Linked DNA regions of Homo sapiens: region 2 is linked to region 1. Evidence: fine-mapped expression QTL. Tissue or cell type: whole blood. Region 1 holds a variant in brackets; the other region holds the start of a gene. All regions are shown on one strand. Distances are between the middles of the regions.

Region 1 (6,335 bases):
TCACCCTTGGATAGGGCTTTAGTTGGGAACTCTTTTTTGCTGATGCTATTGTTGTTGTTTTCTGTTTGATTGTTTTTATTTCAATGGTCAAGTCCCTCTTCTGTAGGGCTGCTGAGGTTTGCCAGAGGTTCGCTTCAAGCACTATTCATCTGGTTCACTCCTGTGCCTGGAGATGTCACTTGAGGAGGTTGGAGAACAGCAGAGATGAGTGCCTGCTTCTTCTTTTGGGATCTCTGACCTCGAGAGGCACCTACCTGATCTCAGTAGGAATGCTCATGTATAGGGTGTCTGACAATCCCTGTTTAAGAGTCTCACCCAGTTGAGTGGCACAGGGAGCAGGACCTGTTTAGCGAAGCACTTTGACCATCCCTTGGTGAAAGGTGTGTTTTGCTGGGGGGGAAACCCACTTGTCTGGGCTGCCCAGATTCCTCAGAACTAGCAGGAGGAAAGGTTAAGTCTGCTGGTCTGCAGAGACTGTGGCCACCCCTCACCCTGGGGGCTCAGGCCCAGGGAGATCAGGCTTCTGTCCCTGAGCCCCTGGCTGGAGTTGTTGGAGTTCCTGCAGGGAGACCCCACCCAGTGAGGAGGGATGGGTCAGGTTCAGGCCTGAAGAGGCATTCTGGCTGCAGTCTGCCACAGCCGGTGTGTTGGGCTGTGGGGGATACCTCTTGGGACGAAGCTATCCAGACTCCCTGGCTCCATCAGGGGAAAAGCATATCCTGGAGCTATAGAGATGGCTGCTGCCCCATACCCGCCCTGGGAGCTTAATGTGTTAGGCAGCTATCAGTCTCAGTGTTGGCTGGTGCCTCTCCCCTAAGGACCTCAGGCAGCTTAGACATTAGGCAGCGGCAGCTGTGGTGCTGGTTGCCCCTCCCCTGGGAGTCTTAAGCAGATTCTAGTTGAGTGGCTGTTGAGAATCTGCATGGCTTCCCGGTGGCATGGGTTCATGAGTGGGATCCTCCAATCCTTGGGTTGCACAGTTCCATGGAAAAAGCACGGTTTCCTAGGCTGGGTAGCACACTCACCACCTCCCTTGACTGGGGTGTGGGGGCTCCCCTGCCCCGTGTGGCTCTTAGGTGGGCCACCACAGCACACTGCTCTTCCTTCCTCTCCATGGGTCATACCAGCTGCCTAGTCAGTTCTTGTTTTTTGTTGTTGTTGTTGTTTGTTTGTTTTTTGTTTTGTTTTGTTTTGAGACACAGTTTCACTCTTGTTGCCCAAGCTGGAGTGCAATGGCATGATCTTGGCTCACTGCACCCTTCACCTCCCAAATGATTCTCCTGCCTCAGCCTCCTGAGTATGGGATTACAAGCGTCCGCCACCACACCAAGCCGTTTTTTGTATTTTTAGTAGAGACAAGGTTTCACCACGTTGGCCAGACTGGTCTCCAGCTCCTGACCTCAGGTGATCCGTCCCCCTCAGCCTCCCAAATTGCTGGGATTACAGGTGTGAGTCACCTCACCTGGCCCTAGTCAGTTTTGATGAAGACCCTGCATACCTCAGTTGCCAGTGCAGGATTTGGAGGCAGTTATGGTTCTTTTTGATGACAGCCTCCAATCACTGCTGCTTCTAGTCAGCCATTTTGGCCCCACCCCCTCAAGAAAATAATCAAGTCTTTGTATTATTCACTCCATCTTTCTATTTCAATGCCCAGTATAGTACCTAGTTAACAAATTTATTCAACACACATTTCTTGAGGAAAATAGGCGAGAACCTCAATTAGTAAAGGTTGTATATAAACTCATTTAAGTCATATAACAACCACTGAGAAGAGAGTGCTTTTTACATATTTGTACTTAAGTCATTTAGAATAAGAAGCAATGTATATTTTTTCTAAATGCTTTTACAATGAAGATAATCAGAATAATATTAAACATAGAGTAAAAATGTAATTAACCAAGTTACGAAAGTAGCTTCACTAATCATTAGACTAAGTAAACTTCTTAGTACAAGTGCTTAATTCATGGCAGTAAATTTGCCCTGCACATTTTTTTCTGCCCCTCTGTGATCATTGGTGCTTCTACTAAGTAGTACCTACCTTCAATTCAAATAATTCAAGTAGTAATTCATTTCTAGCTCTTGAAGAGTTCTCTTACAGGTGATGTAGTCATGTAAAGATCATTTGGCCCAAGAAACTGAAAATTGAGGTGGGAAATATGGCAAAAAGCAATGAGATTAACAGAGTTACATAATAATACCAGCAATAACACAAACATTACGAATAGACAATTAAAATTTCGGGTACATTAATGGGTTTATGGCTGACACTTCTATAATAAAGACAGATTAGCAAGAAAAAGGCATAACAAATTTATTTCATCAAAATGTTATGTGACCTAGAAGCTTTCTAAAATGAAGACCCAGGGACAACTATTTTTATGCTTAGATTTGATGAAGAATAGACAATTTTGTAGAAGTATGATTGGAACAAAAAGAAAAGGGTATGACCTAATGGTAATAAACTGGGGATGAGGGGTACCAAGCAAGGCCTGTTTGTTCAGATTCTTCTTGGCCTTTCTATATAATATTCCTTCCCTCATGGTTTAAAGCATGGCACTTGTCACAGTGTTTAAAAGACAGGAGGCGGAAGTTGAGAGCAATCTTTCTGCTTCTGCAAGTTTCTCAGTTTCCTTCAGCTTAAAATACATAGTGTGCCAATGTGCCATATTTGGGGGCAGCATTTTTTGCTACTCCAAAATCAAAACCTTCAAAGAGAAGCCTTAACTAAACCAGAGTGTTACTTCACTTAAATTCTCCCTTGCCCTGCCATACAAAGATGAATAAGATATTCTTGATCCTCTAAGAACTCACAGTCCAGTGGCAAACATAAGCATACATTTCAATTGTTACAAAAAATAGTAGTAGGAGAAGTACAATTGTTGATTCACATTGGAAAAGCAGAGAGGTGAGAGGAGACCATTATAGTAGAGAGGTGAGGCAAGGAGAAGAGGATAAGCAAAGTTGGAAAGTTCAAAATAGGTAAAGCTAGGGGAGATCAAGGAGATCGTGAATATTCCTGTACCTATAGCAGAA[A/C]GTTTATGAAGAGTAGTTGACAGTGCAATTGCTTGAGAAACATCAACTTGATTAAAAAGAGCCTCTAAGTCTCAGTAGACAGTTGTGCAGTAAAGACCATTAGGATTCCTACCAGAAAGATATATTGCATTTTACACATGTATTTTACCATAAAACTTTCCTTTCAAGAAATATCTCAGAAAATAATTCTTAGGGCACACTTTGGACAAAACTTTCTCAAAGAATTGCAAAAATAGAAATTGTTTTATGGTGAAGGTTTTAAAGTTTTAAACCAAATTTGGTAAAGTAGGAGCTTTGTTGACTCAAAATATTTTAACTTACAGCTAGTCAATTTAAATTTTATTAATTGCCAAGGAACATTTTTAAGAACATAAAACCATGACCCATATAAATATAAAATGAGCACATGCCAAAGATATCATTTAACTCATTAAAGAATAAATCAGTTATGAGAATTCAAAGAACATTTATCTATCTATATATTATATCTATGTCTATGTCTATGTCTACTTCTATGTCTATATTGATATTGGCAATCAAAAATGCTGAACTAAATTCACAGATAGGTGCAAAACTAGTCAATATTCACTGGGCAATAATCAAACGTAACTTAGCTGAACACAATTATTTATATCTCTATAAAGAAGAATCATTTGTATTGCTCACAGTTTTTCTTAATTTAGAGTTGTAAAATTGTTCACGGAGATTGAAAGGCACAGATAGTTCTGAAGGGTGTACTAGCCAGGACTCCTAGTAATTTTATTTTACCCTTTCAAAGTCTTTCACACATTTTTTCTCTGATATTAGATTGAAACTGGTCAGCCACAGTTTTATCCTAGTGCTATTTCAAATGGCCAAATTATGTACATACATATTTAAGGCTTGTATAGAAACATTTAGAGATCTTCAGAACTGCTTATTTTATTTAAATTTTTAAACAACATTGTTTTTAAAAGCCTGTGCTAGAAAGAAGTTTTAAATAAAAAAAAGCATTTGCCTTTTCCTACTTATAAGCAATTTAAGCTATTTACTGATGTGTTTTATGTAATACTTTATTACGTATGAAAAATACTATTTATTTCCCCCTCCATATTTAAAATCATTTTCTTTAGTGTACACTTTGTGGTGTGTGTGTGTGTGTGTGTGTGTGTGTGTCTGTGTGTGCTTTGGAAATATTTCCTATAACTTATTTTAATTTAAAAAAGTATTTTGGAAAAGAAAATGAAAGCTAGTATGTATTGAAATACAAATCTAGTGCAAATCAATCTAATTTAATCAGCTTAGTTTTTTCACAGTAAAATGAATATCTGGCCATAATTAATTTTTAAAGAATACAGACTCAAACAAGCATCCTAATATATGTTAACTGAATTATCTTCTCTCATAAGCTACTGCAAAAGTATTAACCTGCAGAGCACATAAGAATAGGGCAATGTTTTGGTTATGCGAGTAGTATGTTCCAGTAGGCATCTTTGAGTTTTACTCTAAATATTTTCAAATAAAGATTAGGTATCAATATACAGAAAGAAGATGTGATCAAAAAGTGAAATCTAACTGGAGACTTCTGAAATTTTTCAATTCTGATACTTTTTCCGCTGATGATTCTTTATTCTCTTGACCTAAAAGCATTCTGATAAATTTCCATAACTAGTGAAGTCATTATTGAGAATGTAGCTCCCTAATCCTGCTATGTGGAATGAGAAAGAGTAAAAGAAAAAAGGGGAACCATAAAGCTCTAATTTAGAAAGTTAATAAAATACCCACAGGAGTATTTAAGCATTAATTAAAGATAGACTTTGAAATGAAAGAATCTATGTATCAGATAAAAGCTAGTCAGGGGTTTTTCTAAGATATTCATGTCTGTACTCTGAGAAAGTGATGATACTGTTCAAGCCAGGAGAGCAGGGTGTCCATTTTGAAGTAGGGTATCACTTAGCATGGAAGAGCTAGAAAATAAAGTGGTTTTTCAATTACATCATCTTCAACTTGTCCTTATTTGGTCATCAATTGACCTCCCATACTACCATCTTCATTTACTGTGGTCTTTACATCATTTTGACTTATGAAGCTTTTTCTCTCCATCCAATTTCTGCCATAATCATTGTTAACTTCCAAATTCATAAGAACAGCCCTCCCAATTACCTAATATCAACATTTTTGGACACCAACAATCTTTATCCTACCGGACGTTAATAAACTGATTTCCATAGACACATACAAAGATCCTCTTATCACTTGGAACTGCCCCACCTCTTAAATCTTCAACTCCTATATATTTATTTATAACTAAAATCTATCTTTTCAACTCCTTTCTTCCTCAACTCCTTTCTTCCTTTACTTCCACCACACATATCCTCCAAATATATGGTGACACCCATCCATCAAATAACCTCCTTTATACACTTTTATTTTCATTTCTAGTGTAGGCTCCGAGGTTCTTTAATTCAATTATTATTTTGTCCATTCTCTCCAGTGTCTCTAAAGTTCTTTCATTTCATTGCCTTGATTATGCTAAAATGTTCCTTACAACCCTTGGAACATTTCAACTATCTATCTTTATTTCCTGTATTTGGATAAAAATGTCTAGAAGAAATCAATGCCCCACAGATTTATGCCAATATTAATTTTATGGTCTCCAACTTGAGCTGCTCCCACAGTTGCTTGCTCTTTCTCCTGTTACCTACAAGAGCCATTTAAAATCTTCAACAGTACAGCTTTCTATTCAAACACCACTTATGGCCTCTCCTTCTCAACAAGATAATTTATCTATTTCCCAACGAAATTTTAGGACTTCAAGCTTTAATTCATTCAACTTCCTATATCCATATTTATAAAATTCTATATATTTTATATTTACCACAGTTTCCTTTTCTGCTGTCTCATGATTAGGTTTCCATTTTTCTGTAAAAAGCTAATAAACTCTCCTCTTATAATTCTTATAATCTTTAAAATCAAGTAATGTAAGGCTGCTGTGTTAGTCAGAATTATGGCTACCAAGAAGATAGATACCATGCCCTCCTTGATTCCCAGGACTATGAATATGATGAGATAGCACACCTGTGAATGTGTTGGTAAAGGGACTTTAAATATGTAATTAAGAATATTGCTTAATTAACCTTAACATAAGGAAATTATTCTGGATTATCCAGATGCGCCCAATGTATCACATGAGCCTTTCAAATACAGAGACAAAAGAGAACATCAGATTCAAAGTATAAGAAGGGTTTTACATGATATTGCTGACTTAAAAATAGAGGGAAGCACAGGGAAAGAGTGATGATAAAATTAATTCTGACAACAAC
Region 2 (6,335 bases), 160 kb before region 1:
ACTTCAAAGATTCTTTTAAAAAAGAAGGAAAGTGTTTGCAAGAAAGAAAAAAGTCTCTAAAGTATTAAAGGTGGAAGACTAAAAAGAAAATGTAAATTAGTAAAGTATAACATTACCAGAGTGAATTAATAAGATGGTAAAAGAATTCCATTTATCTCCATATAGCTTTTCCAAACATTGAAGGGCACAAAGTGTTGATCCTCCATTTCCTTAAAAACAAAGTTAAAAAAGCACAATTTATTTAATAGAAACCTACTAAAACTTTGTCATGACAGTAAATTTAGGTGTTATATAACCTTAAGGATTTGCCTTTCAGGAATAAGTAAATAGATGGACATCAAAGGTATTGGCAATAGAACAAAATTAAAAACATCTCATAGCAAACAACCAATCAATAAATTAGCAATGAAACCCAGACAACAACCCTCAGTAATAAATGATGAGGTAATATTCTCCCCAAAATAGTAATTATAAGAAAGAAGAATCAATTACACAATCTGTAACACTAGAAGACTGATAAATATAAACATTCATACAGAGTTACAAATCACAAAGCCCATTTAAATAATTCTCCCAAATGACACAATCAAAAACACAAGTTAGAGTTCCTTTCGAAAAAAGATTTTTAGAACTTGGATTCCCAAAAAAAAATCTTAAATATAACTACCACACTAGTTATCTTGGGCCAGTTACTTAACTCTTGAGTACCTCAGATTCTCATCTATGGAAATAATATCACGCCTGTAATCCCAGCACTTTGGGAGGCCGAGGCAGGTGGATCACGAGGTCAGGAGATACAGACCGTCCTGGCTAACATGGTGAAACCCCGTCTCTACTAAAAAATACAAAAACAAAATTAGCCAGGCTGGTGGCAGTCACCTGTAGTCCCAGCTACTCGGGAGGCTGAGGCAGGAGAATGGCCTGAACCTGGGAGGCGGAGCTTGGAGTGAGCTAAGATCGCACCACTGCACTCCAGCCTGGGCAACAGAGCAAGACTCCTTCTCAAAAAAAAAAAAAAAAAAAAAAAAAGAAATAATAACAGTACTGACCTCATAGTTGTAAGGATTAAAATAATGTTGGCTAATTAGAATAATGCTAATGTCATATTAATGTCATATACAGATATCTTATCTCTGGTATCAGGGGGCTTCAACTTTAAGTATCACATAGAAAAGAGCATTCAGAAAAACAGCATTTATTTCTATTTGCAATGGACGGTCAAAGGGCAAAGTTGACCTAAACTAGGGTTTTCAAATATATGTATTATATTTAAGCCATGTGACAGTGTTCTTTTGCATTCTGCATTATGTCCCTAAGAGGTCAAGAGTATTTTTTCCCACTAATTGCTTTCTTCATGTAAATTGCTGGAGGAACTCTGGAGTGGAGAGGACCTCAAGGGTTCTACTGATAAGGTCCAAAGGAGTATTCCTATCTGAATAGTGTGAATTTCATTAAAACTAATAAAATTTTCTTTTAAGTAACATTCTGGAAGTTTTTCAAGGTAAGTCATAATGGGTAAGAACAGTTGCTATTCCTTTTATCTTTCTAAAAAAAGTCAATTTATGTTCAAATTTTAAAGTTTGTAAAGCTGTGGGTAGAGATATGCAGCTTATACACTGTAAGTCACAGAAACCTTTTCTTCAATGATTATTCTGCTTAGGACCTATATTATAAAACTGACCATAAAGCGCGTACCAATTTTGGCTCCAGCAGGATCCACAAAAACGTGATATTGAACTCCAAGGGGTAACTCCTTTCTTTTCAGCTTTTCTGACAGCTGTTGGTTGTAAGCAAGTTCCTGTTTTTCATCAGCCGCTGTTATTGCAACTATGTCCCAGAATTCTCCACGTGCTACAAGTTTGCCTATTTGGAAAAAGCAAGGAAATGAAAACAAAAATTATCAGAATTTTCTAGTTGCCACAGGTTTGCCTATTGAGAAAGATGATAAAGAAGGTAATATCCATTATCATCTTCCAAAATGTATCTTTGGCTTTTGAAAGTTAGGGAATAATTAGTGGTGCATTAATACGATTCAAAATAGTTATAATGAAGACTGTTCACAAGTTCCTTTTTTTTCTTTTAGATCACTCCCTCCTTTTATGGTTTGCAATCCAATTTAATTATAAATTCTGAATGACATAATGTTTCTTGATTAAGAGAGCGACTTTTAACTTGCCAAAGACTATTGCCTCAATTCTTCAATAAGAAGAGGAGATAAACATAAACAAATCTCCAGCTTTGCAAATCAATTCTTATGTATCACGGACACTTGGTGTTAGGTGACTAAGAAAGACACAACCCAAAGATCCCTTCCCTCAATGTTGCTGTTTATAAATGTGGGTACTTTATTTTCTATTACTTTAAGATGAACCATGCAAACTTACATAGGCTGTTAGAATATAACATAAAATTCTGGATAACAGAAGGTCCCAACTCTCTGATGACATCTTTAAAAGACAGTGTGCACTTTTAGTAGACAGTTGGAATCTCTTTATTGATAAACAAAATGATTTAGCATTTTAATTAGTTAACAAACAGAACTTGTCAGCTAGAATCTAATAGTCCTGAAAGTTTTACTGTTATCCAAGAATTAGTCCCAGTATTTTTTAAGCAGTCACTGCAACACAAATATAATCACTTTTATTAGACAGGTGTACAGGGATTAAGTGTCATAGCCAATTTTTTGATAACAAATTTCTTCCTTTTAATTTTTAATCCATAATTCCTCCATGTTCTGTTACTCCCTCAACAAACGGTTACATTACAGAAGTAGATGAACGTAATGTAAAGCGTGAAGTAGATAGGGGGCTGGCATCTACTCATAAAGTTCAAAATACTGTGCTTCGTATCTTTTAGATTTATTTAAAGCAACTTTTATTAATGAGCTAATCAATGCATAACTTCACTAGTAAGATTTTCTTCTTCTTCCTCCGCCCTCATTTTTAATATCTATACTACTAAGAATAAAGTAAGCAACAAGCATGTCAAGCAGGGACAGTGAAAAGAATAAAAAACTCAAAAGGATTATTAGCTAGCTACTCCTGGGGAGCGTCATAGGCCTACAGATGAGAAGTAAACGGGAAGTGACAGTCCAGCAAACCTCCTGGCACGTAAAAGCACCCTCCCTCTGCATTGCCCAGGAGAACTCCGGTGCCTTCTCTGGTACCTCTTAGCTCGGAAAACCTCCGCAATTTTCGCTGGGTGGCTTCTCGCAGCGATACTTCCGGAGGGTCCCTAGCAGCTGCCATAGCCCCACCTTCCCTGAGACCGCGCCGCACAGCACGCATGCGCCCTGGGGTGCGCCTCCGCCCGGTTGTTTCTGACCCGCCCCCTCCGTGCGTCGCCCACGTAACCACGCCCCCGGAGCGCCTTGGCTGGCGCCCGGAAAACCATGATGTGGAGAACTTGGATGTTGTCTTGTTTCTCTAGCAACGGTCTCAGGAGCAGATGGCCGCCCAGCGATTTGTCTGACTGTGTTGGGGCTGGGCCACTTGTCTCCAACTCATAAGGGCTTGCAGCCCAGTTGACCCGGTGAGTGGTTCAGTTTGGGTGACAAAATTGTTAGAACCGACCCGCTAAGGATAAGGCGAAACTACATTCTAGCTTCCCAGCTTTCACATCAAAGGCGGTTCGTCCTAACTGGTGGTTTGTTTCAGCCTGGAGCAGTTCCCCAGGATAGCCTGATAGAAGATCTCCGCCATCTCTCCTTTCCCCCGCCACCCCGGGCCATCTGCCCCCAACCCTGGGTCATGATACATACACAGTCTGAATATTTAAAATCTCTGCTCTTTCTAGGAACCTTAAGTTTGTGGTTCCTAGAGAGTGAGCCACCCCACCCCTCTGTTTTTTCTTAGTAGGCTACACACGACAGCCTCTCAAATAGTGTCTTTGAAAGTTGTATAAAATTCAGTCCGCAACCAGGCTCCAAATATTTTTGGTATTTTGGTTTCTTCTCTGGCATTCTTTTGTATATGCAGATTAATCTAGAATGTTCAATAACACTCTTAGGAATAAGTCAGCCTTTTTAGGTGTTTTTTTGGGTAGCTATATAAAGGTGTTCCTGTTATAGAACACGAGGTTTCTTGGTTTTACAGACCACTTCATCTTTACACAGAAGAAAACTGAATCAGAGAATAGTGAGTTAGTCAAGGTATCACAATTAGTAAGTAATAAAAGATTTAAGAAATATATTTCAATCCCAAACCCAGAACTTGTGGTATTTCACCATACCGTTTGATTTTTTGAGACGATTTCTCTGTATCAACGTCTTCATTAGGTACGTAGACATTCAGGGCACCATAAACTCTTGTCATAAATTTACTTAGTTTTTCTTCTCAGACTTGTTATACAATCGTGTTCTAATAGTGGAAACATTTGGATAAAATGGCAGATTAGATTACTCTTTCATAGTTTTACATTTAAAACTTCATTAATTAAAAAAACAGTATCTTATTGAAGAACATTTAGAAAATACAGAGACTTGAGTGAAAGTAACCAAAGGAGAAAGTAGCGAGAGAAGGTCAGAGAGAGAACAAAGGGCCATAGGAAGAATTTTGGTTTTTACTCTTGAGGGAAACAAAGCCATTGCAGGGTTTTGAAGTGACTTGGCTTATGTTTAAAGAGATCACTCGGAGATAGGAGAATAGATTATAATGGGGGATGAGGCAATGATAGAAGCAGGGAGACTTCTTTGGAGGTTACTGCAATATTGCAGGTGAGAGCTGGTGAAGGCTTGACCAGGATGGTAGCAGTGGGAATGGTGAGAAGTTGGTCAGATTCTGGATATATTTTTAAGACAAAAACAATAAAATGTGCTGATGGAATTAATGGGTGTGGACTGTAAGAGAAAAAGAGGAGTCAAAATGACTGCCTTGGGATGGATTGGCCATCAATTAAGATGGGTAAGTTTCCGACTGAGGAAGGTTTTTGGGGTAATAGGGTCCAGAATTTGATTTTGGACATGTGGAATAAAGAGACATGTGTATGCAGTGAATATGTAATGGAAGTTTGTGTGTGTATGTGTCTGTATGCATTATACATACGAGTCTAGAATTCAGGAGAGAGGTCTGGGCTAGAGATACAATTTTGGGAATTGTCAGCAAGAAGATAGAATTAATTTTAACTGTGGAACTAAGTGAGGTCCCAAGGGAGTGAAGGTCAGCAGAGCCTATATGTTTGGGGTCTGTATATTCTAATAAGGTGAAATAAAGAAGGAAGAAGTAACCAAATAAAAAATCCAGTGGTAACAATTGTGAGGAGACAAACAGAGTGATGTGTTAGATTCTATCATACAGAATATTAAATAGAGTATTTATTGGATCTAGGACGGTATCATACAGAATATTAGAGTATTTCTTGGATCTGGGAAGGATGGCCATAGAAATTGGATATTATTTTTTCTCAATATGACTATATCATGCAATCAAAATTTGCTGGAAATAAATATACCATATTATCAGCTATGGCTTCTGTTTTCTTTCTTTTCTCAAATTTTCATTAATATTAATTTTTAGTAAAAAAAAAATTAAAAAATACTATATATATGAGTAGGAGTAAATTTCCGTGGCAGTTGATTGTTGGAGGCAAAAAAAGTTTAGGGATTTTATTTAAGTTCATATTCACTATAATAAAACAGTGTGATATGACTGTTTAACATCTTAAGCTACCAGAGTATTATTATACTAGAGAATTCGCCACAGAGTTTTTCCAGGTATTTATCAGAATGTCATTTTACCAGAGTAAAATATATCAATCCAGCCAAGCTGTAAGCCCATTAATTCTGCACAAATCAAACACACAGGAAATAATCTGTTTAGTTTTGGATTCCACATTTTTAAAAAGATGTTGAACATACTAGACTATAATAAATTGAAAAATTATATTCTGTGGAGGCATTTGGGCTTTTTATTTCCAGGAGGAGAGTAGAGAGTATCTGAAGAGCTGCCATAAGGAAGAATGAGATAGATTTTTTAAAGCAACTTTATTGAGGTACAGGTTTAGAACATTTTCATCCCCCCATTAAAATGTCTTCCAACCCATTTACAGTTAATGCCAGTTACACTGTTTTTTTATTACTACAGGCATATAACTATGACTGTTGTGTGGAAATTATAGAGAAGAATGTTTTAATTTTCCCCCCTTCTTTATATGAGGAAGTTGAAGCCAAATGAATAGGGTCCTGGATTATATACTGTGGAGCTCGTAGTGCATGCTGTGGTCAGGCCAAGCTAGGGCTGTACTTGTTTCCAGTCCTTGTGCTTCATGGCTCTGTTTAACCACTGTTTCCTCCTGTTACCCTTCCTGACATGCAACGAAAGCAAAAATTGTCTTTTTGC

Evidence for each region. PIP is the estimated chance that this variant, and not a neighbour inherited with it, causes the effect.
Region 2: it holds the start of FPGT, and the variant in region 1 is fine-mapped to the expression of FPGT in whole blood (INTERVAL, PIP 0.96).

The regions. Positions count from the first base shown.
Region 1 is chr1:74,032,489-74,038,823 of GRCh38, reverse strand. All of the region lies in intron 7 of LRRIQ3 (leucine rich repeats and IQ motif containing 3), which reads left to right. Among named protein-coding and RNA genes, the nearest start is that of LRRIQ3, 160 kb to the left of the region's middle. The variant A/C (reference allele first, on the strand shown) is at 3,034.
Region 2 is chr1:74,195,192-74,201,526 of GRCh38, reverse strand. FPGT (fucose-1-phosphate guanylyltransferase) reads right to left here and starts at 3,285. Exons shown (of 4, transcript NM_003838.5): 1 at 3,167-3,285; 2 at 1,696-1,863; 3 at 117-209. The coding sequence starts at 3,248. LRRIQ3 (leucine rich repeats and IQ motif containing 3) reads left to right here and starts at 3,351. Exons shown (of 8, transcript NM_001105659.2): 1 at 3,351-3,531. FPGT-TNNI3K (FPGT-TNNI3K readthrough) reads right to left here and starts at 3,285. Exons shown (of 27, transcript NM_001112808.3): 1 at 3,167-3,285; 2 at 1,696-1,863; 3 at 117-209. The coding sequence starts at 3,248. RefSeq lists a silencer at 3,348-3,447.